4 linked regions of the Homo sapiens genome follow. The protein of the gene in region 1 interacts with the protein of each later gene in a biochemical or structural test. Each region holds a gene or a part of one and is shown in the gene's direction. Other genes may lie near its edges.

What was found.
Region 2: the proteins of MAP2K4 (region 1) and GEMIN5 form a complex in vitro, tested with the Homo sapiens proteins (one study listed by BioGRID).
Region 3: the proteins of MAP2K4 (region 1) and FLNC form a complex in vitro, tested with the Homo sapiens proteins (one study listed by BioGRID).
Region 4: the proteins of MAP2K4 (region 1) and NBR1 form a complex in vitro, tested with the Homo sapiens proteins (one study listed by BioGRID).

What each region holds. Positions count from the first base shown.
Region 1 is NC_000017.11:12,135,378-12,143,631, forward strand, and holds part of MAP2K4 (dual specificity mitogen-activated protein kinase kinase 4), read left to right. Parts: intron 1-4,461; coding exon 4,462-4,507; intron 4,508-5,769; coding exon 5,770-5,883; 3' UTR 5,884-8,254. UniProt on the Homo sapiens protein: Dual specificity protein kinase which acts as an essential component of the MAP kinase signal transduction pathway. Essential component of the stress-activated protein kinase/c-Jun N-terminal kinase (SAP/JNK) signaling pathway.
Region 2 is NC_000005.10:154,892,752-154,901,005, reverse strand, and holds part of GEMIN5 (gem-associated protein 5), read left to right. Parts: intron 1-1,695; coding exon 1,696-1,815; intron 1,816-2,355; coding exon 2,356-2,566; intron 2,567-4,662; coding exon 4,663-4,914; intron 4,915-8,254. UniProt on the Homo sapiens protein: The SMN complex catalyzes the assembly of small nuclear ribonucleoproteins (snRNPs), the building blocks of the spliceosome, and thereby plays an important role in the splicing of cellular pre-mRNAs.
Region 3 is NC_000007.14:128,825,288-128,833,699, forward strand, and holds the start of FLNC (filamin-C), read left to right. Parts: upstream 1-5,118; 5' UTR 5,119-5,350; coding exon 5,351-5,702; intron 5,703-8,412.
Region 4 is NC_000017.11:43,208,434-43,212,662, forward strand, and holds the end of NBR1 (next to BRCA1 gene 1 protein), read left to right. Parts: intron 1-1,123; coding exon of another isoform or gene 1,124-1,210; exon of another isoform or gene 1,211-1,429; intron 1,430-1,467; coding exon 1,468-1,641; 3' UTR 1,642-3,255; downstream 3,256-4,229. UniProt on the Homo sapiens protein: Ubiquitin-binding autophagy adapter that participates in different processes including host defense or intracellular homeostasis.

The sequences.
Region 1 (8,254 bases):
CTGGCCCACCTGGCTAATTTCTTAAAAAAATTTTTGTAGAGACTGGATTTCACTGTATTACCCTGGTTGGTCTTAAACTCCTAGGCTTAAGCGATCCTCCTGCCTCGGCTTCCCGGAGTATTGGGATTACAGTGGCGTGAGCCACTGTACCTGGCCTGGATAAGCATTTTAAAGTGCCATTTATTTATTTAGGACAGAGTCTGGCTCTGTCGCACAGGCTGGAGTGCAGTGGCATGATCTTGGCTCACTGCAGCCTCCACCTCCCAGGTTCAAGTGATTCTCCTGTCTCAGCCTCCTGAGTAGCTGGGACTACAGGCACGCACCACCACTCCCAGCTAATTTTTGTATTTTTAGTACAGACAGGGTTTTGCCACGTTGGCCAGGCTAGTCTCGAACTCCTGACCTCAGGTGATCCGCCTGCCTCAGCCTCCCAAAGTTCTGGCATTACAGGGGTGAACCATCGTGCCCCACCTAAAGTCCCTCTTAAAATGTAAAAGAGTTGGTGCAAAACTGAGGAATCCATGGAGCTCTGAAGTTGACTGAAATTCAGGGAGGGAGATTATGGGAGAGAAGGAAGAGTCAAAGTAAATTAAAGGATAACCCAAGCAAATGTAGATTTGCCATCTAAATTCATATTGAATATGGTAAAAATACTTAGAGAATTTAATTTTAAGAAAAATTACTTTTCAGAGTCCCTGGTTGGAAAGATATGCTCCTCTTGCCCCCAGTTGATGGGCAGAAGCAAAAGCAAATCATTCAGCCTAGGACTAAATGATTCCAAAAAATAAAGTCAAGTGGAATATGTAGTCCACAAAAAAATCTCAACACTCACAAAAGAAATGAGAATCAGAAACAATGGATAGTAGGAATAGATCTGCAAAGGCTTCAAATATTGGAATGAAAGGAAACAAAAAATAAGTTTAAAGAAAAAGAGGCAGCTTAGAAATATAAGCAGGGAACACATTTATAAAGAACCAAATAGAACTTCTAGAAATAAAAAGCATAAATTAAAACAATAGCTGCATTCAACAGATTAGATATCATTGAAGAGAGATTAATGAACTAGAAGACAGAGCTGAAGCTCTCCCAATAAAACTTTTTGAGATGCTGGAAATGTCCTATAATCTGCTCTGTCTAGTGTGGTAGCTGCTGGCATTTGAAATGTGGCTAATGTAACTAAGGAAATGCATTTTTTATTGGAATTAAGTTTGCTAACGGCTACCTTATTAGATAGTCTAAGGGGAGCTAATATAATTATTGATAACATTATTAGTGTCAGCTGTAATTCAGAAAAAGAAGACAGTCAATGTTAATAGTTTAAGATTTCAACCCAAATAGCATCATAAGTTTATACACTGACATAATTTTCTGCTCCAGTAGATGAAATAGAAAAACACAAAACCAGAAAGGTATGGCAGCTTTACAAAGAAAGCAAACCTCTGTGTGGGTGAAAAAATGCAACAAAAATACTGACAGAATGCTGTGTAGATCTGATGCCATGGACTTGCTGTATTCCAGGTCATTTTTCATTCTGGAGAATGAAAAAAATGATATCAGTTACTTCCTGGGCCACAGCTTTAAGCAAGCTATGGTACTACACAATGACAAGGCTTTAGATACTGGTTTTGCAACCAGAGGACTGGAACTGTAATTGTCCTAATACCAACATAGGAGTGGAACTTGAAAGGTCCATTACAGGACCCTGTTTGATACTGGTGGCCCTGTGAAATAGAGGCAACTGTAAAACTGCTCTATGTGTGTATCCCTGGCTCCCAGTTCAGTTCATAGTGATTAGTGGGGCACTCAGACATATGTTGAACAAATGAATGGATATGCATGGAGGGTAAACATGTTATTTCAAAATGAGTCTGCAAATCATAATTCTTGAATACTGAAGTGTAATGCTAAGAAAGCATTTAACAAAATGGAACAGAAACTTACTTTAAGTTGAAATAGATTTATGAAATTGTCTGAAATATGCTGTAAAAGAAAATCAGTATATTTAGGATGCTCAAGGAAATAAAGGTATAAATTCAATTAAAACTGAGGAAGAAATAAAGTGGTTGGAAATAGAAGTCTTGGAAATGGAAAAATCATAGCTGTTGATATAAAAGACACAACAGACTTGATGTTCTCTAGACTGGAAATAATTGAAGACAAAATTAGGGAAATAGGAGCTGAGACGTTCCCCCAGCATGGCACAGATTATATGAAAAGCAGTGAAGAATCAGAACAGATTGCAGAGTTAGAGGTTCTAAGATGCATGTAATGGAAATAAAGAAGGCAACTCTGAAAGTGGAGAAGCAATGTTTACAGAGATCATAGGGGAAAGAAAACATTTGAGAACTGATTTAGTATAGGTTTTCAGATTGAAAGTGAAGTCTCTTTATCATGTAGGATAAACAAAGGTATAAGCTTAAAGGTAAATTTAAATATAAATTTAAAAGTAAATTTTAATTGATATTCTGTAGTTTTGCTTCAGTGCATAAATGATAAACAAAGGTATAAATTTACCTTTTAAATTTATATTTAAATTTACCTTTAAATTTATACCTTTGTTTATCATCATTTATGTATTGAAGCAAAATTACCGAGCAATATCAGGAAGAGAAAACAGATTATCTGTTAAGGATTGATAATAAGACTAACAGCAGATTTGTTCCCAGCCACAATAGTTGCAGGAAAAAGTGGAGTCACAGCACCAGAGTGCTGAGGGAAAATAATTGTCAGCCTGGTCCTAAAGTTTTAGACTCAGACACTCAAATATTCACAGTAAGGAAGAAATACAGTTTTAGGAATGGGAAGACTGAGCACTTACAATTTATAGACTGCTTTGATCCTTGAATGGTGTGGAGGTTAGGGATGCTGACCCCCTGTACAGTCAAAAATCCGCATATAACTTTTGATTACCCCAAAACTTGACTACTAACAAATAGCCTACTGTCAACCAGAAGCCTTACTGATAACATAGTTAACATATATTTTGTATATGTATTATATACTGTATTATTACAATGAAGTAAGCTAGAGAAAAGAAAATGTTATTAAGAAAATCATAAGGAAGAGAAAATATATTATTTATGAAGTGGAAGTGGATCATCATAAAGATCTTCATCCTTGTCTTCACATTGAATAGACTGAGGAAGAGGAGGAGTTGGTCTTGCTATCTCGGGTGGCAGAGGCAGAAGAAAAATCCATGTATAAGTGGATTTGTACAGTTGAAATCTGTGTTGCTCAAGGGCCATCTGTACTTGACCAAGAAGAGAAGTTAACCCAGAAGAAGGATGTCACAGGTTGGATGCCTGGAAAGCAGGCTTTTGAGACAGAGATAAGAGTGTAGGAAGTTGACTAGGTAGTGATCTTGGGATCAACACTACCAATGAGAAGGAAACGAGATTGGGCAGAAGAAGTTCAGTTGCAGTGCCATGTCATTGAAGGCCTCAGCCAACTCTGTGTTGACCTGCCTTGGAATGAGGGTCTTGGATTTTTATTCACTTTTGTGGATCAGTCATTAGAGATGGACTGTCCCAGGAGGGCTAAGGTGGCTGTCTTTAGCTGTGGTAATCCTGAAGAGGCCGATAGTAAAGGGTTGTCTGCTGGCGGCTTGCCCCACAGTGGAAGAATAAGTCCTTCCTTCTTAAAGAGGGAATCTACATAGCACATTGCAGTATCTGTTACAGAAGGTGTGGGATATGGAAAACAGCAATGAGTTTAGAAAGAGGTGAACTATGTTACCCATATTAATTCATGTTTGATAGTAAAATATTAATTGAGGTTGGAAGGGAATGGTGATTAAGATATGGGCCAAGATAGATGAGGTAAATATAAACAAAATGAAAATACTTTTGGCAGCTTTAATTAGGCAAGGTAGAATTCAAGGAGAAAATGTCAACAGAGCAGACATTTTTATATACTGATGTAGTCTTCAGTGAAGTTATATTGTTTTAAACTTTTGGACCAAAGAACATATTGAGATACAGAGTATAAACTTTTTTAAAACTTAAGGATAAATTGATAAAAATGTATATGTAATTTATCTCCCAGAATTACTTGATTGCTGGTTTCTCTTGGGTAGTATCTGCATAAATATCTGTCTACTTATTTATTTACATTTAGAAAAGCATATATGTACACAAATAATTTTATACTTATAAAACATTTATATATTTAACTGTAGTATTCTGTGTAGCTATGCCATAATTTAGTCAATTTTCAAGAATTAATATTTTTTCTAATTTTTAACTAATCATCCTACACTGACTATCCTAGAGATAAATCTTCAGATTATAGACTCACAATTTTTTGTATGTGCTTTTACTGTGTTTAGCAGGCTGTCTGCGTTGTTACTTTGGATCTGAAGGAAAGAACTATTTCATTATTTGTAATATTTCATCTGTGAAAAGAAAAATACTTAGGCAAATGAATCTACATTTTAATAATGTTATTTTTATGTTATTTTAGCCTTACGAAGGATGAATCCAAAAGGCCAAAGTATAAAGAGCTTCTGGTGAGTGTGGGACTGTGGGGATTGTAGGTACATCCTAACCCCGGAACTCTCTTAACATGCTGGTTCACTAAGCAAGCAGTGGGCCTCTCTGTCATAAACAAACATCTCAAATTTATTGAGTGTTTTTTGTTAATGTTTTTACACAAAGATTTGGAAAGAGAAAATTTGCAGTTATAATTTTTCTACTAATACTAGCTAAATTCTCATGGAAAATTTTGGTCTTAACATGTTATAAAAATTACCCCCAAAGAATTCTGACTTTAAGAAGCCATTTTCCACTGCATAGTCTATTTATATGGGATGCAGCCATAAGAAAAAAATTAGTGAAAATTTGTGTTTATTCTGCCTTTATAAAATTCATGCAAATTTACGTCATATAGCCTATTCCCATTTCTTTGAAAGTTCTCATTCATCCCATGGAACTTGGGTGTTTTAAGCAGTCTACTGGGTATGGCATTGGTGGGGCAGGGAGAAAGTGTTGTGATCTAATAATGTGGGAATATTTTAAGAAAAGATCCATTTGTTTGTCACATTTAACTACTAGCTCTTCAAGGATGTTGTGACAAACTTATATCACAGTCCACCAATGACTGTAAAAATATCTAGTCAACATACTTAGTCTGTAAAAGAAAACTGTTGCTAGAGATGGAGTTTTAAAAGGTGGGTTAGTGAAGCAGATACTGGGACCCTGGCTCTGGAGAGTACAGGGAAGAAGCTCCTGGGGCAAATTTCTCTTGGGCCTCTTTTGGTCAAAAGAATTACAGCCTTTTTGTTAAAAGGTCAAAAGAAGAGGTCAAAAGGATTGCGACCTTTTTGTAAAAAGGTCCTCCTGTTGTATATAGGAGAAATGGAGGTTGAGATTTATATTGGTGTCCCAAGAGGAATAGTGACTGGCATTTGCGTCATTCTTCTTAGCTCTTAGATGGTGTGGTGGAGGCTCCAGCTATGTTTTGTGCTGAGTGACAACTTGGCTGTCTTCCTCAACAAACACTCCCTGGTATACAGATGAGTTTCCAGACCTCACTGCCAAGGTGGCACCTTCAGATCATTACCACGTATCCTCTCTCTAGGCATGCCCATGCCCATTAGCATATCTGCATGGAATAAAGGCTGTACTCGCCTCTCTGAACTTGTAGTGTTGCGGTATTTCATAGCTATGTGTGGTTGGGAGCCTGGAGTTCTATGTTCTATAGAAATTGGAAAATGTTCAGTTTGGGCTGTCATACAAACTTTTGACTTTTTTGTTTTCAATTTTCTTGCAGAAACATCCCTTTATTTTGATGTATGAAGAACGTGCCGTTGAGGTCGCATGCTATGTTTGTAAAATCCTGGATCAAATGCCAGCTACTCCCAGCTCTCCCATGTATGTCGATTGATATCGCTGCTACATCAGACTCTAGAAAAAAGGGCTGAGAGGAAGCAAGACGTAAAGAATTTTCATCCCGTATCACAGTGTTTTTATTGCTCGCCCAGACACCATGTGCAATAAGATTGGTGTTCGTTTCCATCATGTCTGTATACTCCTGTCACCTAGAACGTGCATCCTTGTAATACCTGATTGATCACACAGTGTTAGTGCTGGTCAGAGAGACCTCATCCTGCTCTTTTGTGATGAACATATTCATGAAATGTGGAAGTCAGTACGATCAAGTTGTTGACTGTGATTAGATCACATCTTAAATTCATTTCTAGACTCAAAACCTGGAGATGCAGCTACTGGAATGGTGTTTTGTCAGACTTCCAAATCCTGGAAGGACACAGTGATGAATGTACTATGTCTGAACATAGAAACTCGGGCTTGAGTGAGAAGAGCTTGCACAGCCAACGAGACACATTGCCTTCTGGAGCTGGGAGACAAAGGAGGAATTTACTTTCTTCACCAAGTGCAATAGATTACTGATGTGATATTCTGTTGCTTTACAGTTACAGTTGATGTTTGGGGATCGATGTGCTCAGCCAAATTTCCTGTTTGAAATATCATGTTAAATTAGAATGAATTTATCTTTACCAAAAACCATGTTGCGTTCAAAGAGGTGAACATTAAAATATAGAGACAGGACAGAATGTGTTCTTTTCTCCTTTACCAGTCCTATTTTTCAATGGGAAGACTCAGGAGTCTGCCACTTGTCAAAGAAGGTGCTGATCCTAAGAATTTTTCATTCTCAGAATTCGGTGTGCTGCCAACTTGATGTTCCACCTGCCACAAACCACCAGGACTGAAAGAAGAAAACAGTACAGAAGGCAAAGTTTACAGATGTTTTTAATTCTAGTATTTTATCTGGAACAACTTGTAGCAGCTATATATTTCCCCTTGGTCCCAAGCCTGATACTTTAGCCATCATAACTCACTAACAGGGAGAAGTAGCTAGTAGCAATGTGCCTTGATTGATTAGATAAAGATTTCTAGTAGGCAGCAAAAGACCAAATCTCAGTTGTTTGCTTCTTGCCATCACTGGTCCAGGTCTTCAGTTTCCGAATCTCTTTCCCTTCCCCTGTGGTCTATTGTCGCTATGTGACTTGCGCTTAATCCAATATTTTGCCTTTTTTCTATATCAAAAAACCTTTACAGTTAGCAGGGATGTTCCTTACCAAGGATTTTTAGCCCCAAATCTCTCATATTCGCTAGTGTTTAAAAGGCTAAGAATAGTGGGGCCCAGCCGATGTGGTAGGTGATAAAGAGGCATCTTTTCTAGAGACACATTGGACCAGATGAGGATCCGAAACGGCAGCCTTTACGTTCATCACCTGCTAGAACCTCTCGTAGTCCATCACCATTTCTTGGCATTGGAATTCTACTGGAAAAAAATACAAAAAGCAAAACAAAACCCTCAGCACTGTTACAAGAGGCCATTTAAGTATCTTGTGCTTCTTCACTTACCCATTAGCCAGGTTCTCATTAGGTTTTGCTTGGGCCTCCCTGGCACTGAACCTTAGGCTTTGTATGACAGTGAAGCAGCACTGTGAGTGGTTCAAGCACACTGGAATATAAAACAGTCATGGCCTGAGATGCAGGTGATGCCATTACAGAACCAAATCGTGGCACGTATTGCTGTGTCTCCTCTCAGAGTGACAGTCATAAATACTGTCAAACAATAAAGGGAGAATGGTGCTGTTTAAAGTCACATCCCTGTAAATTGCAGAATTCAAAAGTGATTATCTCTTTGATCTACTTGCCTCATTTCCCTATCTTCTCCCCCACGGTATCCTAAACTTTAGACTTCCCACTGTTCTGAAAGGAGACATTGCTCTATGTCTGCCTTCGACCACAGCAAGCCATCATCCTCCATTGCTCCCGGGGACTCAAGAGGAATCTGTTTCTCTGCTGTCAACTTCCCATCTGGCTCAGCATAGGGTCACTTTGCCATTATGCAAATGGAGATAAAAGCAATTCTGACTGTCCAGGAGCTAATCTGACCGTTCTATTGTGTGGATGACCACATAAGAAGGCAATTTTAGTGTATTAATCATAGATTATTATAAACTATAAACTTAAGGGCAAGGAGTTTATTACAATGTATCTTTATTAAAACAAAAGGGTGTATAGTGTTCACAAACTGTGAAAATAGTGTAAGAACTGTACATTGTGAGCTCTGGTTATTTTTCTCTTGTACCATAGAAAAATGTATAAAAATTATCAAAAAGCTAATGTGCAGGGATATTGCCTTATTTGTCTGTAAAAAATGGAGCTCAGTAACATAACTGCTTCTTGGAGCTTTGGAATATTTTATCCTGTATTCTTGTTTGAAT
Region 2 (8,254 bases), on another chromosome or scaffold:
ATCTTCCTTTAGAGAGTGTTAAACTTTGTTTTGGTAAGTAGTAAAGTTGTGTATCAGCTTGATCTTTTCATGGCTTGTTTTTAAACTTCGTTAGGGCAAGTTTATCATATTCTAGAATTACCTCCTACATTTTGATATCTTTCTTGAATGCCTTATGCATTCAACAAATCAAAACTCAGATGTCTCCAAGTCCTGAGTAAGCTCTGGGAATTGTTCAGCTTACAGTTACCTAGTCATTCTTTGTTTAGACTTAAGGAGTTTCCTTTACATACGTGGCTTTTAATTTAGCCAAAGACTCAATGGGATCTCCAGGCAGAGTTGTGGATGTCTTTCTCTGGACAGCTTCCTCCTTCCTAGTATCCTGCCCCTCAGATTTCCATTGTTTCCTCTTCTCAACTCAGAGACTGCTGAGGTTTTGCTCAGGTTTTCCTTAGGAAAATGGCTTTGGGCAGAAAGCCAGTGCCAAGATAGGGCTCCCATCATTTGTTTCTGTTCTCTTAGGGCTGACCATCCTATGCTGCCTGTTACCTGGTATCTAAAAACAGTTGTTTCAGCCATTTTGTCCAGTTTTTTAGTTTTATGGCAGAAAGGTAAGTCTGGTCCCAGTTACTCCATCATGGCTGGAAGTAGAAGTCCCAAAATACTTTCAAAATATTGCTCTCTCTAGATCACTTTAATCTAATAAAACACTTTTTTCCCAGCTACAACTTTATGTTGGCTACAACTCAGCAGTTGTATGTCATTTGAAAAATATTTGTTTACTGAGTTGTTCAGATCTTCCAAATGTTAACATATCTTATTATAAAATACCCAAAAATACCACATTCCTTACTATCACCATCAGTCTCATCAGAAAATTCTAACTTATGGGAAACTCAGGCACACAAGTGGTAGGTACAAGTTTTCTAAAATTCTAATTTTTGCTAGAAAACTCGCATTTTATCATTAGTAACAAATACTGTTGGTTGTTTTTAATGAAGTGATAGGCCTACTTTGTTCATTTTTGAGAAAAACATCTGCCAAATACCCAACACTGAATAACTGTTATTTATGTTAGTCATTTTTTTTTTTTTTAGAAGAAAGAAGGTTCTATGAAAAAGCAGCCAGTTTAGCTTGTAATTTGTTCATACAGGTGTTACCTAGAGACAACCATTCTACTTTGGAATGCAGCAGAGAACACAAAATGTTCTTCCCATTTGTCACACAGAATATTAAAGTGTTTTGGACTTGACGGATTTAGTAAAATTTGTAATTTTTACTGCTTCATTAAGGGCATTCTTCCTTTTTTTCCACTGTAAGAGCCACCGCCTTCCTTCTTAGATGCCAGGTTTCCCAATCACTGCTTTGGCACAATCAGTGCAAATGTCAACACATTTTTTTTTTTTTAATAAAAAAGCACATAACTGACTCTTAGCATTGTTACGAAAATAGTTTTAACCTCATGAACCCTCTGAAAGGTTCTTGAGGACCCCCTAGGAATCCACAGACCACAATTTAAGAACTGCTGATCTAAGTGAAGAAACGAATGCAGCATATGTTTCTAATTTGTCTATATAATGCAAGTGCAGTTTTTAAAGGAAGTTGGAACAATAAGACAACACAAAAGGGACAGTTTGTCCTGTCTTACAGCCCCTCCTAGGACCATACACAGAGGAGCCTTTTCAGATTGGCTAAAGGGTCTGTTCTTGCCTTTAGGGAAGCTATTGCGATTGCCAAGGCCCGGCTGCGCCCGGAGGACCCAGTCCTGAAGGACTTGTACCTCAGCTGGGGAACCGTCCTAGAAAGAGATGGCCACTATGCTGTAGCTGCCAAATGGTAAGCCTGAGGAGTGGAGGGATGCTTCCAACATAGGAGAGCTTCTGCCAGGAAGGGGAGGACAAGAATACAAGTAATAAGTTTAGAGGTGGAGGTAAAGCAGCAAGGAATTATTTAAAAGATATGTATATTCAACTTAGTTTCATAAGACTCATCAGGAACTACTTCCTGATTTATTTATATAAATCACTATAACTATTCAAGAAAAACCTCAGCAGCAGATTAAGAAATTATGCATTTTTCTAATGGTCTCTTATAACATCAAATAAAGGAACCTCAACCCATGCTGGATTGAACCCAACAGAGGAGTCATTCCCTCTCATTTTCCTTATGTCCTTAACCTATATGATATTGTTTCTCATACACTCTGCTGAGTTGTGTTGGCCTCAGCCTTCACAGGAACAACCGGGGCAGTGACATACCTGGGACCACAGGAAGGCACATGCAGCAAAGTAGATAGAAAGAAATGATTCCATCCTCTAGGAATGGGAATAAAAATCTGTTTGTGACATTTTCTTCACATTTTTATTCATATTATAGCTATTTAGGGGCCACTTGTGCTTATGATGCAGCCAAAGTTTTGGCCAAAAAGGGGGATGCGGCATCACTTAGAACGGCTGCAGAGTTGGCTGCCATCGTAGGAGAGGATGAGTTGTCTGCTTCCCTGGCTCTCAGATGTGCCCAAGAGCTGCTTCTGGCCAACAACTGGGTGGGAGCCCAGGAAGCCCTGCAGCTGCATGAAAGTCTACAGGTCAGTCTGTTATTTCATCTCCTAGTATACAAGAGGGAAGTGTCCCAAATCCTTTTCTAGTCAAATCCAAGTTAATAACCCAGTTGCACAAGCTGTGCCAATTTGGCAGGCCCAGCAAGCCCTGGCCATGCTATCCCACTGAAGTACTATGACTTGTTAGTTGCCGTATTCAGAGTAAGAGATAATATGGTCATTCACAGTAATTCCCATTGCTTATCTGTTTGTACAAAACACCTGTGAGCCGGGCACAGTGGCTCATGCCTGTAATCCCAGCACTTTGGGAGGCCGAGGCAGGCAGATCACTTGAGGTCAGGAGTTTGAGACAAGCCTGGACAACATGGTGAAACCCCGTTTCAACTAAAAATACAAAAATTAGCCGAGCGTGGTGGCACGCTTCTGTAATCCTAGCTTACTTGGGAGGCTGAGGCAGGAGAATCACTTGAACCCGGAAGGCGGAGGTTGCAGCGAGCCAAGATCCAGCCTGGGCAACATAGTGGGACTCTGTCTCAAAAAAAAAAAAAAAAACACAAAAAAAAACACCTTAGTCAGCCCAGGCCTTGGGTTGGCAGTCTAGGGTTTCTTCATTGATGTTATCAGCACTGTCTTCCTTGAAGAGAGAATGGTTGGCCTCTAACAGAAATCATGGAACTCTACCTGTAAATGCCCCTCTTAACTGTAAGCTATGGAAAAAAAACTGGGCCAGATGCAGCAGATCGCTTGAGATTAGGAGTTCAAGACCAGCCTGGCCAACATGGCGAAATCTTGTCTCTACTAAAAATAAAAAAATTAGCCAGGCATGGTGGCACACATCTGTAATTTGGCTACTTGAGAGGCTAAGGCAGGAGAATTGCTTGAACCCAGGAGGCAGAGGTTGCAATGAACCAAGATTGTGTCACTGCACTGCAGCCTACGTGACAGAGTGAGACTCTTCAGAAAAAAAAGAGAAAAGTGTGGGAAAATGGAAATCTCTTTATTTCTTAAATTTTTTTGTTCCCATCTGATTAAAAATCAGTAACATACCACTGCCTTTTTGACACATCAAAACAGATTAAAGCATTGGCACACTTACCTAGTTTCTGAAACATGTAAACATTTGATTCACTTTAGATAACTTTGTGAGATACTAACAAGAGGTTTTTTAAGTTCTTCATTCTCTAACAGAGTACAGGGCCTACAGATGGTTTTTAGCTGAATATTTAGAGCCCAAGGAACGTGGTACATGGGGAGGTAGCTTTCTAGGAACAGCAGAATAAAAATGGAGGTGAAAATAGGACACCCTAAAAGATAATGCCACTGGGCATTATTTATAAAATGACCAAGTCTAGAAAGATTTTAATTTATCCACCATCAAAAAAAGTTTCCAGAATGACTGTTTAGCATTTTATTTTTCTCTTAAACAGCATCCTTAACAAAGCAAAAAAACCTAATAAGCATATGCTAAATATTCTGATAAGGGCTATTTTGGTTTTGTGCAACAGAGACTCTTGCAAGCTTAACTGAGAAGATATTGTTATAGGAGTACACAAGGAATCTCATGGCAACTAAAAATCTAGTGAAAGTAGATTTTCTAGGCCTTCTCTGTGCTTCTGTTTTCTTCTCTCCCAGCCAGCTTCCTCTATTAAACCTATTTGGACATGGCTCCTAATGCCTGTCCCAGCTCTTGGATCTGCAAAGCTTGTCTATTCCAGCACCTTTGGCCCATTATGCTTTTATTCCTGAGTCCAAAGTTTGGTCAGGGAGAAAGAACCTGATGAGCCCAGCCCTTCTTTTCCTCAAACTAGGCTACAAGGCTTAAGTGGCTGGTCTGTGTGTGGCTTAAATCATTGTGGGTAGTGCTACAGTTGGGATTCTGTGTTATAAAAATGGTTTCTTGAGCTCTAAGGATAGATTTCCCCCAAAAGGGACCTGGGAAGTGTCTGTCAGATCGCCCCTTTTGTCTCTTTTCATGCATGACTCATATGGGGCAGGTAGCTCACTAATGTGCTTTGGTTGCTGCAGATACAAAGGGAAATACTTTGAAGGACACGGGAGAGCTCTCGAGATCATCCAGTGCTTTCCCTGTATAACAGTTCCTCTTCCTTGTTGTCGTGTTCCAGGGTCAGAGATTGGTGTTTTGCCTTCTGGAGCTACTGTCCAGGCATCTGGAGGAAAAGCAGCTTTCAGAGGGCAAAAGCTCCTCCTCTTACCACACTTGGAACACGGGCACCGAAGGGCCTTTCGTGGAGAGGGTGACTGCAGTGTGGAAGAGCATCTTCAGCCTTGACACCCCTGAGCAGTATCAGGAAGCCTTTCAGAAGCTGCAGAACATCAAGTACCCATCTGCTACAAATAACACACCTGCCAAACAGGTAAGCCATCTGTACCAGCATTTGACATTAATCACTCAGTGGTAAGACTTCCTTAATCCATGTCTATTGTAACGGGGAAACAAGCAGAATACTGGACTGTGTTTCAGAAAAGGCTAAGGCATGGCCACGCCACCTGGAAAGATCCCTTTAGACTAATCAAAGCCCTTTAACTTTAAAGTTAGTATTAGATCAGTATTCCCTTTTTTGTTTTGTTTTTTTTAGTTGTTTGAAGCTGGAGTGCAGTGGCATGATCTTGGCTCACTGCAGCCGCCACCTCCCAGATTCAAGTGATTCTCCCGCCTCAGACTCCTAAGAGCTGTGATTACAGGCGTGCGCCACCACGCCCAGCCACTATTTCCTTTTCTAAAAAAGTAAAATAAAAAGTCTAGAAAATATAGAAAAGCAGAATAATGTAATAACCCATCAACCAGAATTAACAGATGTTCACATTTTGTCATTTTTACTTTGTAGGGTTTTCTGGTTTCATTTTGTATTTTGATTTGAGGACTTTATAAAATAAAAACAGTAGGGCAAAGTTGAAGTCCTTCTTGTTCCTTTCCTCAGCCCTTCACTCCTTCCCTAGCTCGCCACAGGCACCTCCTGTGTCAGTGCCACATGTATTGTTTTGCTGTTTGCTTATTTCAGAGGCCATTGTTTGTAAAATCTATCCATGTTGATAAAAAGAGATCAGTTGATTTATTTTAACTGCTATGTCTGCCTTGTGAATATACCTACTTCTTTTTTTTTTTTTTTTTCCTTTCTGGAGACTGGGTCTCACTGTTACCCAGGCTGGTCTCGAATTCCTCAAGTGATCCTCCCGCCTCAGCCTCCCAAAGTACTGGGATTACAGGCATGAGCCACTGTGCCTGGCGTAGTTCTTTCCCTCATTTCAAAATGAGGGAACATTATGATATTTATGAGGAACAAGGCTTCTCAAATGGTATATACTTTGAAAAACAATTGGACAGTTTCTTTTTTTCTTTTCTTTTTTCCTTTTCTTTTCTTTCTTTTTGAGGCGGAATTTCACTCTTGTTGCTCAGGCTGGAGTACAGTGGCATGATATCTGCTCACTGCAACCTCCGCCTCCCAGGTTCAAGCAATTCTCCTGCCTCAGCCTTCCAAGTAGCTGGGATTACAGGCATGTGCCACCACGCCCAGCTAATATTTTTACTTTTTTTTTTTTTTTAGATGGAGTCTCACTCTGTCACCCGGGCTGGAGTACAGTGGCATGATCTTGGCTCACTGCAATCTCCGCCTCCCAGGTTCAAGCAATTCTCTTGCCTCAGCCTCCCGGGTAGCTGGGATTACAGGCACCTGCCACCATGCCCGGCTAATTTTTTGTATTTTTAGTAGAGACAGGGGTTTCACCATGTTGGCCAGGCTGGTCTCGAACTCCTGACCTCGTGATTTGCCCACTTCGGCCTCCCAAAGTGCTGGGATTATAGGCATGAGCCACTGCAGCCAGCCTATTTTTCAGATTTTTAGTAGAGACAGGGTTTCACCATGTTGGCCAGGCTGGTCTTGAACTTCTGACCTCATGTGATCCACCTGCCTCGGCCTCCCAAAGTGCTGTGATTACAAGTGTGAGCCATCACGCCTGGCCAGGCAGTTTCTTATAAAGTTAAACATGCACATGCCCCATGTCTCAGCAGTTCTGCTACCTAGATATTCCACTAAAACAATGAAATCAGATGGCCACACAAAGACTTGTACACAAATGTTTACAGCAGCTTAGTGCACAGTAGCCAAAAACTAGAAACAACCCAAATGTCCATCAACTGATGAATGGATATGCAAACTGTGTTGTGTCTATGCAGTGAAATACTATACTGTTTAACAATAAAAAGGGCCAGTCTTGGTGGCTCACACCTGTAATCCCAGCACTTTGGGAGGCCAACGCGGGTGGATCGCTTGAGCTCAGGAGTTTGAGACCAGCCTGGGCAACATGGCAAAAACCTGTCTCTAGTAAAAATACAAAAATTAGCCGGGTGTGGTAGCACAAGCCTGTAATCCCAGGTACTAGGGTGGCTAAGGCAGGAGAATCATTCAAATCTGGGAGACGGAGGCTGCAGTGAGCCAAGATGGAACCACTGCACTACAGCCTGGGTAAGAGAATGAGACCCTGTCTCAAAAAAAGAAAGTAAAAAGGAACAAATTACTGCCACACAAATAATATCGGTGTTAGCCGCGCGTGGTGGCGGGCTCCTGTAGTCCCAGCCACTCTGGAGGCTGAGGCAAGAGAATGGTGTGAACCCAGGAGGCCAAGCTTACAGTGAGCCGAGATCGTGCCACTGCACTCCAGCCTGGGCGACAGAGCAAGACTCCATCTCAAAAAAACAAAGAAGAAGAAGAAGAATATCGGTGAATCTCAAAAGCTTTAAAGACACAAAAGACTATATACTCTGTGGTTCCATTTATATGAATTCTAGAAAAGAAAAAATTAAAGTGACAACCAGTTCAGTGGTTGCCAGTGGGGTGGGGCCAGGAGATCGCCTGCAGAGGAGCCGGAGGGCATATCTTCAGTTGATGAAAATGTTCTGTCTTGATTTTGCTGGTAGTGTTGTAACTATATATGTTTCTCAAACTACATACTTAAAATTGAGCACATTTTTCTTAGTTGTACTCCAAGCTTTGTTTTGTTTTGTTTTTGGTGGGTTTTGATTTTTTTTTTTTGAGACAGCGTCTCACTCTGTCACCCAGGCTCGGGTGTAGTGGCTTACTGCAACCTCCGCCTCTCGGGTTCAAGCAATTCTTCCGCCTCAGCCTCCCAAGTAGCTGGGATTACAGGCGTGCACCACCAAGCCCGGCTAATTTTTTTTTTTTTTTTTTTTTTTTTAGAGACGGGCTTTCACCTCGGGTGATCCGCCCGCCTCAGCCTCCCAAAGTGATGGGGTTATAGGTGTGAGCAACTGCACCCAGCCTTTATTTTGTTTTTAATTACAGCTTTTAGTTCCAGAAACTCACTTTTTGTTTTTGTTGTTTGTTTGTTTGTTTTGAGAGGGAGTCTCACTCTCATGCTCAGACTGGAGTGCAGTGGCGCAATCTCAGCTCACCACAACCTCCACCTTCCGGGTTCAAGCAATTCTTCTGTCTCAGCCTCCCGAGTAGCTGGGACTACAGGCACGCGCCATCATGCCTGGCTAATTTTTGTGTTTTTAGTAGAGGCGGGGTTTCACCATGTTGGCCAGGCTGGTCTTGAACTCCTGACCTTGTGATCTGCCCACCTTGGCCTCCCAAAGTGCTGGGATTACAGGCATGAGCCACCGCGCCTGGCCCACTTTTTGTTTTAATTAAATGCAAATGTAAAGGTGTTTTCTCAGTGTGAACAGACTTTAACACC
Region 3 (8,412 bases), on another chromosome or scaffold:
GGGACCTGAACCTAGACCCTGCCTAATGACAGGAATGTGGGCCTGCTTTTCCCACTTTTTTGCTTAGACTACAAAACCCCTCCCTTTAGGACATGTCCTTCTCTGTTCATTTCATTGATTAATTGATTGATTGATTGAGACAGGGTCTGGCTTTGTTGCCCAGGCTGGAGTGCACTCGTGCAATTTCGGCTCACTGCAACCTCCACCTTCCAGGCTCAAGCCATCCTCCCACCTCAGTTTCCAGAGTAGCTGGGACTACAGGTGCTCACCACCGCGCACAGCTAATTTTTGTATTTTTTGCAGAAATGGGGTTTTGCCATGTTGCCCAGGCTGCTCCAAACTCCTGAGCTCAAGTGAATCGCCCGCCTCGGCCTCCCAAAGTGCTGGGATTACAGGTGTGAGCCACTGCACCCGGCCCTCCGTTCATTTTAGAATCCCATTCTCTTCATTTGGTTTGGACTGTCTCCTTGTCTTAATGATACACTGTTACCCAGGCGTATTAAAGAGGAATCTTTTTTTTTTTAAGAGGAATCTTTTTTGTTGAATGTGAAACATTCACTTGAGCTAGCTTAAAAAAAAGGCAGTAGGATATTCTCATTTATAAGTGGAGTTAAAGCCGGGCGCAGTGGTTCACGCCTGTAATCCCAGCACTTTGAGAGGCCAAGGTGGGTGGATCACAAGGTCAGGAGTTCAAGACAAGCCTGGTCAACATGAGGAAACCCCGTCTCTACTAAAAATACAAAAATTAGCTGGGCGTGGTGGCAGGTGCCTGTAATCCTAGCTACTCGGGAGGCTGAGGCAGGAGAATCGCTTGAACCTAGGAGGTGGAGGTTGCAGTGAGCCAAGATTGTGCCACTGCACTCCAGCCTGGGTGACAGAGCAAGACTCCGTCTTTAAAAAAAAAATGTGGAGTTAAAGAATGTGTATAATGTGCACACAGGGACATAGAATGTGAACTGATGGACATTGGAGACTTTGGAGCGGCGAGGGGTAGGGGGGCGGTCGGGGCATGGGGCGAGGGGAGGGATGAGAAATTACTTAATGGGTACAATGTACATTATTTGGGTGATGTTACACTAGAAGCCCAGACTTCACACTAAGCAATATATCCATGTATCAAAACTGCACTTGCACCCTCTAAATTTATACCAAAAAAAAAAAAGACAGGAGGGATTGATCTTAAGTCTGGAGGGGTATGCCTTGGAAGCCACAGGCAGGCGTGCACTTGGGCCTAGGTGTGCTAGAACCAGGGACTCAAAGCACCTTCAGGAGCCTCCATCTCTCCCCGCTGCTGCCCTCTGCATAACTGCCTCCTTTCTGTGAGCTCCCTGCAGCCTAGCCCTGTCTGGTTTCCCTTCCCAGGCCAAGAGGTAGAGCAGCCACCCGCTGCCACTCCTGTCAAGGACCAGCTGCTTTTGGGGCAGGGTGGGTGGTTCTAAAGATGACAGGTACTGCCGGTTCTGATTGTGGCAGAGGGAATGTTGGGTTGCAGGGAAGGGGAGAGGGGAACAGCCTGGAGATCCAGGCAGTGGTCCCCACGGAGGTGTGGACACAGAGCTGCAGGGGAAGGCCTCTCTCACCAGAACCCCTTAGTCTCCAAGATAATCAGAGGAAGCAAACTAATTGTTTTGGATCACCTATTAGATGCCAGGCACCATGCTAATCATCTTTCTTGTGATTTCCTTCCATTTTCACACATTAAAAAAAAAAAAAGACGAGAAAACAGGCCCAAAAGAGCTACATTACTTGCCCAAGGTTGCAGAGCTAGAAGTAGAGAGGCTGGAATTCAGCCCATGGATCATTCCACTCTACCACACTGTCCCTGGAACCTGGGTCAGAGCCACAGTCAGTATCAGTATCACTGAAAGTGCCTGTTATGACCTGGCCAGCCCAGTATCATCACAGGTGACTGTGGAAATGTCCCTGGTTCCAGAAAAACAGGATTTTCAAACATGGCTCATTGTATCCGCTCACTTGGATTCAGCTCAGCCCAAGATAAATATGGCCAGTATTGGTGGCTGATGAGCAGAGCCCCTTGACGGCAGAGGCAGGACCAGGTGAAGAGCCAGGCAACCTGGTCTCCTGAGATAGGTCAGCAGGTGGTGAGTCAGGGGGCTATAAACAGCCTGTGGCCCCAGCCAGCACTGCCCAGATACTCAGCTGATGAAACCCCTTGTAACCCCCTGTGTGCCCCTGCCTGGCTTGGGGAGGAGCATGTCAGCGCTCCTCGGGGAGGGGGCCCTACTTGGCAGGCCGGGCCCAGCATTGTGCACGGTCTGTTCCAGCCTGGCTGGCCAGGCCCAGGGCCTGGGCTCATGGGCTATATTGAGGGCTGAGTCACCAGCCCGCGCCTGGGTCAGGCTGAGTGTCACTGGCTGCTGGGGCCTGAGTCAGGCCCCGATTTATCCTGGAGAGCAACAGGCTCAGGTTTCTGAGGACGGTTGCGGGGGGTGACGGGAATCATCCTTTGGCACTCTGTACCCTCCTCTCCTCTGCCAACCATTCACTTGATCCCCTGGGACCCGCACACTGACCTCCCCTGGAGCGAGCTCTTGAGTCAGAGGGAAAGCAAGGGAAGCTACGCTGGGAGTTCCTTCTCCCCTCCCTGGCTTCCTCCGGCCTCTCCACCTGAACAGAGGCGCTCAGCTGGCTGGGGGACCTCAGATAATGCCTGCAAAACAGGACTGTGGACCATTAGGGTCTGTAAAGGGGCTGTCAGCTCCGAGCTACCTCACCTTAACCCTTTCTCCTCCCCAGCAGCTCAAAGAGGAATGCATCCTTTCTCAGATCTGTGTCTCAGTTTACTCACCAGGGATTCAGAGGCAGCACTGCTGAACCCTGAGCCCTTGGCACATCAGGTTGGCTGTCAGAAGTCGGCCTTTGTACATACACAGTTCCCTTGTGAGGCCCAGCTGCGTGTCCTAGGAGCGGGGCCTCTCTCCACAGCAGAGCTCAGCCTCTCAAGTGTATGGACAGCACGGGTGCCTGATGGGTGGATTTAGCCATGAGTTGAAGGTGGCTTGGGGAGAATGAGAGTTCTAGAGATAGGGAGAAGGGGTTGCCAATAGGAGAGTGGAATTCCTGAGCACCTCGTCACAGGCAGCCGACAGAACATGAGCCGCAGGGCCCAGGCTATTTATACCTCGCCTGTCACTATCAGGGTCCCCACAGCTCCCCCCACCTCCAGCCACACACAGCAGGTCCTTTTGCTCTTTCTGGTCCCTTCTCTACTCCTCCCCCTCCCTACCTAAGGACCAGGCAATTTCATTCATAGACCCCTGTCATCATAAGCATTGCCCCCACAGAACCCTGACACTTTTTCCTCAGCTCCGTAACAGGGGGTGCCCTCATTGGCCCTTGGGGGAAAGAGCCCCCAAAGATGCTCACTATCCCTTCTTTTACACCAGGTCTAGGGGTAGAAGAGGAATTAGATATAATGATTCATCTAAAAGGGCCCAGAACCTTCCCTGGCTTAAAGAAACTTCTCAGGCTCAGATATGGCCTCCTAGCCAGCTCAGCTAGACTTACTAGGTCTAGAAGGATGGGAAAGCTGAAGACACATGGCTTGAAAAAGGGGGAACTGGGAGATATGGCTGCACGTATGTTACAAAGTTGCAGAATGGATCCTCTCCTTATAGAAATACATTCTCTAGGCCCAGCACGGTGGCTCACGCCTGTAATCCCAGCACTTTGGGAGGCTGAGGCGTGCAGATCACCTGAGGTCGGGAGTTCGAGACCAGCCTGACCAACATGGAGAAACCCCGTTTCTACTAAAAATACAAAATTAGCTGGGCGTGGTGGTGCATGCCTGTAATCCCAGCTATTTGGGAGGCTAAGGCAGGAGAATTGCTTGAACCTGGGAGACAGAGGTTGCGGTGAGCAGAGATCATGCCATTGCACTCCAGCCTGGGTAACAAGAGCAAAACTCCATCTCAAAAAAAAAAAAAAAAAAAAAAGAAAAAAGAAAAAGAAATACGTTCTCTAGCTCTTTCTCCTCACCCCAGGCCAGAGTCTGTTTGGGTGCCTCGGTTTCCCTGCTGTTCTATTCCCCAGGCCTGCAGCCTTTGGCTTGCCCTGAGTGCAGCTTTGCCTGGGCATCCCAGCTGGCTCCCTTAGGCTCTCCCTGACCACTCTGCCCCTGGTCCTGCCTACCCACCTGGTCACATTTCCCCCTGGCTGCTCTGGCTGGGGCTCTCCCTGTTTCTGCCTGGCTGACCCACCCTTTCCCTGGCAGGATCTGCCCTGTGGCCCAAATGGGCATGTTGCCCAGGGGGCTCCCTGGCACTATGGGGGAAGAGTCTCTCCTTCCCCTCTTATCATCTCAGTTGAGTCAGACTTGGGGGAGGGGGATACACAGTGTGAGTCACTGGGTACCCTTTTCCTGAGCTCAGCTTCATACCGAGGCGATGAGGCCAAACGGGCTGGTGACAGGGACACTGAGTCAGGGGCAGGGGCCCCGGTCTTACTCCTGGGCCTCTGGATTTGGGCCCTACATGAGGCTTTTCTATCTGTAAAGTCAAGCAATGGCTGGGAGGCACACACAACCCCCCGCCCCCCCGCAGGCTTCTCCTTCATTGGCCCGGGCAAGGTCCCTGCTTCCTCTCAGGCCGTCTCTGCACAAGCACACACACTTCCCTTCCCTGTCCACAGGTGGACAATGCCCTGGGCTAGGAGCCAGCCCTCGCAGGCCCTGTCAACAGCCTGCCACCAACTAGTCTAGAAAATTCTGTGAACACCAGATCAGTGGGTTTTGCCCTAATCACTGGCCTCAGTTTCCCCATTTACCTCTTCAGCCCGTGCGGGGTGTGGAGGGAGCATATTTCATTCCTGACAGTTTGGTGTGTTGGGTGTGGATGGAGAACTGTCGGCCCTCCCCGCCACCTTCCAGCGCGGCGGCACCGGGGGCCCAGGGGGTGGGCGCCCTCAACCCCGTCCCGCCGCCCGGGCGGCGCGGGGGAGGGGCGGCGGGGGCGGGGCGTCCTGTGCGGCGCGGCCCCCACCCGCGGGCCGGGCGGCATTCCTGGGAGGCCGGCGCTCTGACGTGGACCCGGGGGCCGCGGGCGCGGCGGGGGGGCGGCGGTCCGGGGGCTTCTTAAACCCCCCGCCCCGGCCCAGCCCGCCCTTCCCGAGCACCGCTCCGGCCCTGGAGGGAGAGAGAGCCAGAGAGCGGCCGAGCGCCTAGGAGGCCCGCCGAGCCTCGCCGAGCCCCGCCAGCCCCGGCGCGAGAGAAGTTGGAGAGGAGAGCAGCGCAGCGCAGCGAGTCCCGTGGTCGCGCCCCAACAGCGCCCGACAGCCCCCGATAGCCCAAACCGCGGCCCTAGCCCCGGCCGCACCCCCAGCCCGCGCCAGCATGATGAACAACAGCGGCTACTCAGACGCCGGCCTCGGCCTGGGCGATGAGACAGACGAGATGCCGTCCACGGAGAAGGACCTGGCGGAGGACGCGCCGTGGAAGAAGATCCAGCAGAACACATTCACGCGCTGGTGCAATGAGCACCTCAAGTGCGTGGGCAAGCGCCTGACCGACCTGCAGCGCGACCTCAGCGACGGGCTCCGGCTCATCGCGCTGCTCGAGGTGCTCAGCCAGAAGCGCATGTACCGCAAGTTCCATCCGCGCCCCAACTTCCGCCAAATGAAGCTGGAGAACGTGTCCGTGGCCCTCGAGTTCCTCGAGCGCGAGCACATCAAGCTCGTGTCCATAGGTCAGTGCCGGGGGCGAGGGCACGGGCGCTGCGGGGATAGGGTCGTCCCATGGGGCAGGGGCACAGGTGCGGGGTGGGCGCGCGGGGAGCTGAGAGACAGGGCGGAGGGCACCCCCCGGTATAGAGAGAAGACCCTGGCCCCGGCCCTCCCACCCATCGACAAGGGCCATGGGCACTGCCTGCACACCCCTCTGGGGACAGCGAGCACTCCCTGGGTGCCCCGGGGAGTCCAGGCCTTAGGGTTTGCGAGCCCTCCAGCTGCCGCCTCCCCATGCACATTCCCACCTCCCGCCTCGGCTCACCGTTCCCTTTCCTTCCATCGGGCAACCCTAGCCCACACTCGGGAGGACAGAACCAGTGCCTGTCACTGATTCCTGGGGGCATCTCCCCGCCCCCAACAAAACAAGTGGCTTCCCAGCTTCACAGCCCCTCCGCGGGCTGGGAGAGGGCTGAAGACAGGTCCCCAACCACTGCCCGCGTCTGCGGGCTCTGGGGCCGAGGGGAGCTGGCGCGGGAGGCCCTCTTCGTGCATGTGCTCAGCAGCTGGGTTCAGGCCCGGGGGCCAGGACAGGCAGGGCCCAGCCTCAGAAACCTAAAAAGGCACTGAGCGAGCGCGGGGAGACTTAACCCCTGTCTGTCCTCCTCCTGCTTCAGCCTGCGGTGGAGGGGGCTTCCGCAAGTCCAGGCCCTGCCCCAGCCCACCCCCTACCGCGGGATTGGCTGCAGCTAACGGTCTGGGCTGCGGGGAGGGAGGGAAAGGCCTGTGGAAGGGAGGAAGTCTTTGAGTGTAACCAGATTTGGAAGGTGTGTAGTGCAGGGTGGGGGCGGGGAGGCACTCTAGTCTTGGGAGCAGAGACGCCAAGGGTGGGCTTGGAGTGGCAGGAGGCTGTCCTGCCCTCAGAGTCCTGCAGTCATCCCTGAGGCTGGGGGCCTGGGGAAGATCCCCCCGCCCACCCCTGTGGAGAGCTCTTAAGAACCCTGCTGGGATTTGCAGGACGAGGTCCTTGGACGGTGCACCCCACGGCCCCAGGAGGGGAGTTTCATGTGGGGCCAGGTGGGCCCCACACAGGATGTTCCCTGAGATTTCTCCAGATGACTTGATGTCTGTCAGCCCCACTCTCCCTTGGGGCCATCTCTAGGCCTCCTGATATAGCAGCTGAGGTCAGCCCAGGGCCCTTTGCCCCGTCCAGTCCCCTCCCTAGCCCTTACCCCCTCCTGCCCCAATACTGCCCCCCCACCCCACCCGCCTGCCCTGTCCTGGAAATAGCCCTGCCTCCGTGACACAGCAGATGTCTCTGAGCTTTCCAGAAGGACAAGGCTGAGGGCAGGGGGTGGGGGAGGGAGCCTGGAGTGTGTAGTGAGACTGAGGGCTACGTGATGGAGGCTGAGGGGTCAGAGAGGAGTCAGTCCTGGGCCGGCATCCTCAGCAGGCTGGGTTTTGAAAGGCAGGACTGACTGTACCAGGTGGGGTCTGGGGGAAGAGCCGGAGGCTTCGGCAAGACATATAGGAAACCGCTCAGCCTTCCCCTCCCCTCCAGTCTGCGGGGGCTCTCGGCCCCTCTCCAGGCCTCGTCCTTCCTGAGCACACCTCTCCCCTCCCCCGTGGCGGTGCCTGGCTCCAGCCCCCTTGGCTCAGCAGAGGAGGGGCTGGCTCAGAGCAGAGGGGAAGAAGCAAAAGCTGGTTTGAGGGTGGGAGGGAAGCTCCCTGGTTCCCGCTGGGAGGAAGGGGAGGCAGTCCCCATTTGGGCCAAGTGGCTCACTGGCGCTGATGAGATAAGCTGTCAGCAATTCAGCTGCCGGCCCCAGGCTGAGGCTGGAGGGGAGGGGACACCGGCAGCGACCAGCTGGGGCGCCCCACCATGAGGAGGTTCAAAGGGGCTGCCCACGAGGCAGGGGCATCCTGCTTCTGCTAGCTCCCCTACTCCATTTAGTGGTGGAAAGGGGCTATCCATGGGGCCACCTTCTGAGTATTGTCTCAGCACCGAAATCGAGCATCTGGGCACCTCAGGGGGTGTCAGAAAGACTCCCCACTTCTCTTTCCAGGAGGGAAGTCAGGGTCTGGAGTAGCAGCTGGGATCCAAGCCCACCTGAAGAAGGGGCACTGAGCCCAGGTTAAAGGAGCTGTGCCCTTCATATCCTCACCACCTTGTCCTGGCCCCCCGTTGCCCCTCGTTCCCTCCGAACAAAGAGGCCTATGAGGCAGCTCTGTCTCGCAGCTGTTCCCCAGTTGCTATTCCTTCTCCTGGAGCCAACAACCAAGGGAGGGGCGGGAGGGGGCAGCAGCTGTCCCAGCACCTCCCTAGGCCCAGCCCTCTCCTCCCCCTCCATTTGAGGCCTGGGGTGGCCTCGGGAACTAGCTGTCTGGCTCCTCCCACTCCTTTGGGGGTATCCCTAGGCAGATGGAGAAGTGGCTTGGTGAGCCCTGGTGGCGCTGAGCTCCTCTCCTCTGCCTGGCCTCCGAGAGGGAGGAGGGAGAGGGAGGTCATTGCTTCCAGAGTGGGACTTGGGGCCCCACTGCCCTTCTCCTGCCCCAAGCCTGGACCACTTGCTGTCTGGCCCAGGGCCAGTTGCTGGGGAGAAACTTCCCTCTCCAGCAAATATGAATGACCACCCTCCCCATATACACACCGCCCCCCCCAACCCCTGCAGCCTCAAGGCTTCCTGCCCAGGGGTCTGGCTCCAGTTTGCAAGAAGTACTTCTGGGCGTGTG
Region 4 (4,229 bases), about 31 Mb from region 1:
GAATCAGGTTTGGAGGGAAATGCTTAACATGTTTGCATACTGTTCTCATCTTTACATACTTTTTCAACAACCCTGCAAAGTAGGAGGTATGATATATCTTCAGTTCATAAAGGAATTGATAGCACAGTTGGTAAGTAAATGGAAGATTAGGGTTTGAGTCTAAGCCTATCTGCCTCCCAAGTTAATAATCTTTCTGCTGCACAGTTTCAGTATCCCCAGTCTGTGAAATTGGGATAATAACAGAACCAGAGGCCAGGCGAGGTGGCTCACATCTATAATCCCAGCATTTTGGGAGACCAAAGTTCAAGGATCACTTGGGCCCAGAAGTTCAAGACCAGCCTGGGCAACATAGGGAAACCTCATCTCTAGTAAAAAATTTAAAAATTTGCCGGGCGTGGTAGCGCAGACCAGTGGTCCCAGCTATTTGGAAGGCTGAGGCAGGAGGATCACTTGAGCCCAGGAGGTTGAGGCTGCAATGAGCTGTGTTCACACCACTGCACACCAGCCTGGGGAACAGAGTGACACCCTGTCTCAAAAAACAAACAAAACAACAACAACAACAAAACAAGCGTTTAAGGATTTAGGAAGGTAATGCTTCCACCACAGGGCTTGAATGAATGAATGTTAACTTCCTCTTACCTATTCTTGTTTTTTTTTTTTTGAGATGGAGTCTCGCTCTGTCACCCAGGCTGGAGTGCAATGGCGCGATCTCGGCTCACTGCAAGCTCCACCTCCTGGGTTCACGCCGTTGTCCTGCCTCAGCCTCCCGAGTAGCTGGGACTACAGGCGCCTGCCACCACGCCTGGCTAATTTTTTGTATTTTTAGTAGAGATGGGGTTTCACTGTGTTAGCCAGGATGGTCTCAATCTCCTGACCTCATGATCCGCCCGCCTCAGCCTCCCAAAGTGCTGGGATTACAGGTGTGAGCCACCGCACCCAGCCCCTCTTACCTATTCTTTTGGAGGAGAAAAAATCAAGAAGCCTTCCCAGGTTGTAATTTCCCAAGCTGTTTTTTTTGTCCAGCTCCTCTGCATATCTGACAAAATTTCCCATAGCATCTTTCAGTAACACTTTTATCTTGCTCATACTTCCCCCATCATCACAATTACACTTATGTTCACAGGGTCTCTGGGGCTTGCTGTCATTCCTTCATCTGGCCAAAAAATGCTTCTTCCTGAAAGCCCCGAGTGAAGCATTCTCCTGGTTCTAAGTACAGTTCATTAGCTCCCCGGTTTCCCTTTTCTCCTCCTTCAAGTACACAGATAACTAATCTAAAATAGGGCCTTCCCAGTCCGAACCGTTGGTATCAAGTACACAGGAGTGCCATAGCCTTGAATCTAATTACCTAGTACTTTGAATAAATCTGGAAAGACTAGTATGCTTGCAAGATGATACAAATGTATAAAATAAACATTTAAATTATACAGAATTTTTTTTTTTTTTTTTGCTTTGCTTGTCTCTACACAGCCAATAATTTCTGAAGATCAGACAGCAGCCCTGATGGCCCATCTCTTTGAAATGGGATTCTGTGACAGGCAGCTGAACCTACGGCTGCTGAAGAAACACAATTACAATATCCTGCAGGTTGTGACAGAACTTCTTCAGTTAAACAACAACGACTGGTACAGCCAACGCTATTGAGGAGTGACCTTGTATTAAATAACTGCCTGCTGCTCAGAGATGATCTTTATTCTGTCATTGGGGTATGGGATAGAAGCCCTTGCTTATTTTTAATCTGATGAATCTGTATAGAGCCCATCGTTGAGTTACCAAGACAATACCTGCTACAGTATTTTGGGGAGCAAACTAAAGACCAGAACTTAAATTTTCACTTTAGACATTGGATGAATAGTATGAAGACAGTTTTTCAGTTGATTTGGATAAAACTATTTTAGTGCATTGACAAGTGTAACTTCAACTTCATATAGAACCATTTTTCTTTCTGCTTTTATTGAAACTGAGTATTTTTCTTTGGCTAATGTGGATTTTTTATGGGGATATCTGTTAATTTTCAGGTTTTGAAAGACATTAACCTCGGAAGTTGTTTTTAAGAATTATTCTCATAATTCTTATTCTCATAATTTCTGTAATCCACCTCAAGCTTCATAGTTATTTGGCATTGAAATAACACCCAGAGCATGATAGAAATGTTGTTACTCTTCCTCTCTCAAGGAGAAAGTAATTTTCCTGCAATACTTAATAATTGGCACCGTTGCTTTCTAAAGACTCCATGGTGCATTCAAGAGTATCCAACTTCAAGGGAATCTCCGCATTTCAATGAAAGGAGGAAGAGTGTGCTGATAAACCTACCAGCACCTATTGAGCAATGTCTATTATAGTAATTTTGCATACATTTTTATTTAAGGGAAAAAATATAGGTATTGTGAAATATTTTGCTAATCTTATAGAAAAGGAAAAAATCCCGTTATTTAAAGGGAAAAGTAAATTTAACAGTTGCCTTTTTTCTTAATGTCAGGGCAGATCTTATTTTACAGTACAGTGGGGGAAATAGAAACATGTGAAAGGCAAAAGGCAGGCTCCTAAATTAATGTCAGTGAAGTTCAGGGTGGGCAAATGAGTGTGTGTGAGGTATAGGAAATGCTGATGACTTCTTTAATGCTTGAAGTCCGTTCACAGGTATCTAGCCCTAGAATGCCTAGAACAGGAAGAGGCAGCTGGTGTTCTGCAAAACTTGGACAGGGGCAAAGTTGCTGAAAAAGTTTTGGTTTAACCCGAAGATAAGTGGAAAAGAGCTTGTCCATGAACCCAGGTTCTCACTCTGTTTACAGAAGTGTGTTGAGTACAGTTGGTGAAGGAAGAGGTAACAAAAAATGCTAAATATTTTATCCATGAAAATGACTTCCAGAAAAGGAAGAATATGAACCCCAGACCGAAGGGGAAAAGATAGTTAATAGTATTATCTAACCTGGTTGGTATTTGTAATGAATGGTGATTTTAATTAGTCATTAGCCATAATGATGTTTATTTACAGTATAACTCCTGAATGCTACTTAAATAAACCAGGATTCAAACTGCAAGCCAGCCAGGCCGTTCATTATTTAAAACGTTTTAATCGGGGCTTCCGGGTAGAAGGTGGAGCGGCAGGGTGTAATTGGGTTGATGGGTGGGACCTGTCTTGACCATCGGAGTTTTATAATCGAGGGCCAGGAGGGCCCGGGTTGCTCTCCTGGTTATGTATGTACTTGTACATAACCACCTAAAGAATGGTGAAATAAATGTTCTTGGAAATTCCTACCCGGACTGGCTAGTCCTTGCGGAAGCAGCGTCCGGGCCCTCGGGTAACGTTTGAAGAGCTGGCAGCGTCTCAGGCTGCTGCGTGGCGAAGGGGCGGACCGGGGGACGGGGGGGTGGGCCCTTAGGGGCTGGGGCGGGACTTCCCTGGGCACTGAGTCAAAGCTTGAGGGGAGTGTTCGCTCCCGCATTTTCGATTCCACTCTCTTCCGTTTCTGTCGCTGCAGTCGTCCGCGGGTAAGGCCCTCCCTAGACCCTTTATACCTACTTTACCTTTCGGAGGTCAAGACACCTCCTGTTGCCGCCTCCTCGCCCAACACACAGGCGCCCCCCGCACGGGTACCAAGCTTGACTAACGGCCTCTAGGGGTGTGTGGTGGGACTTGAAATCCTCCCTTAATGAAGTCACACCTTCTCCGTCCGCTTCCACCCGGTCGGCCCATGGCAGAGCCCCCATGTAGCCCAGGAATCGGCTTGGCCCTTCGGGGAGGTCAGCGTCCTTACTATCCCCACTCTCCAGTGCGGCACATTCGTTCCCCTAGGACTCCGGCCGGTTGCCGGCCCCAGGCGGTGCTTCTCCCCACCACCGCCCAGCTCAGCTCAGCCCAGCCCAGCCCACTCTGCCCTTAGAGGCCCTTCTCCCCAAAGACGCACTCCAGAAGTCTCGCCCTCGTGCGGCTGAGGAGCCTGGGATCCCAGACCTGAACAAGGTGAGCATCCCTATATTTTAGCCCAGAAAGATCTGTGTGGCTCACTTGCCGGCCTCGTTCTGTCACACAGAGTCCAGATTTAGCCTTGAGTTTTCCTAGTGAAAGACAGACCCTGGTATCACTATGACCCTCCTCAGGCTTTCTTACCCCGCCTCAGAAAGCAGTGAGGTGTCTGCTTTCTCCCAGGGCTTCTTTAGATAGGGGTCTTAACCACACCTGTGACCAGTCTGGCCTCCTCTCTCCTTGATTCAAAGAATCTCTTTTCTGC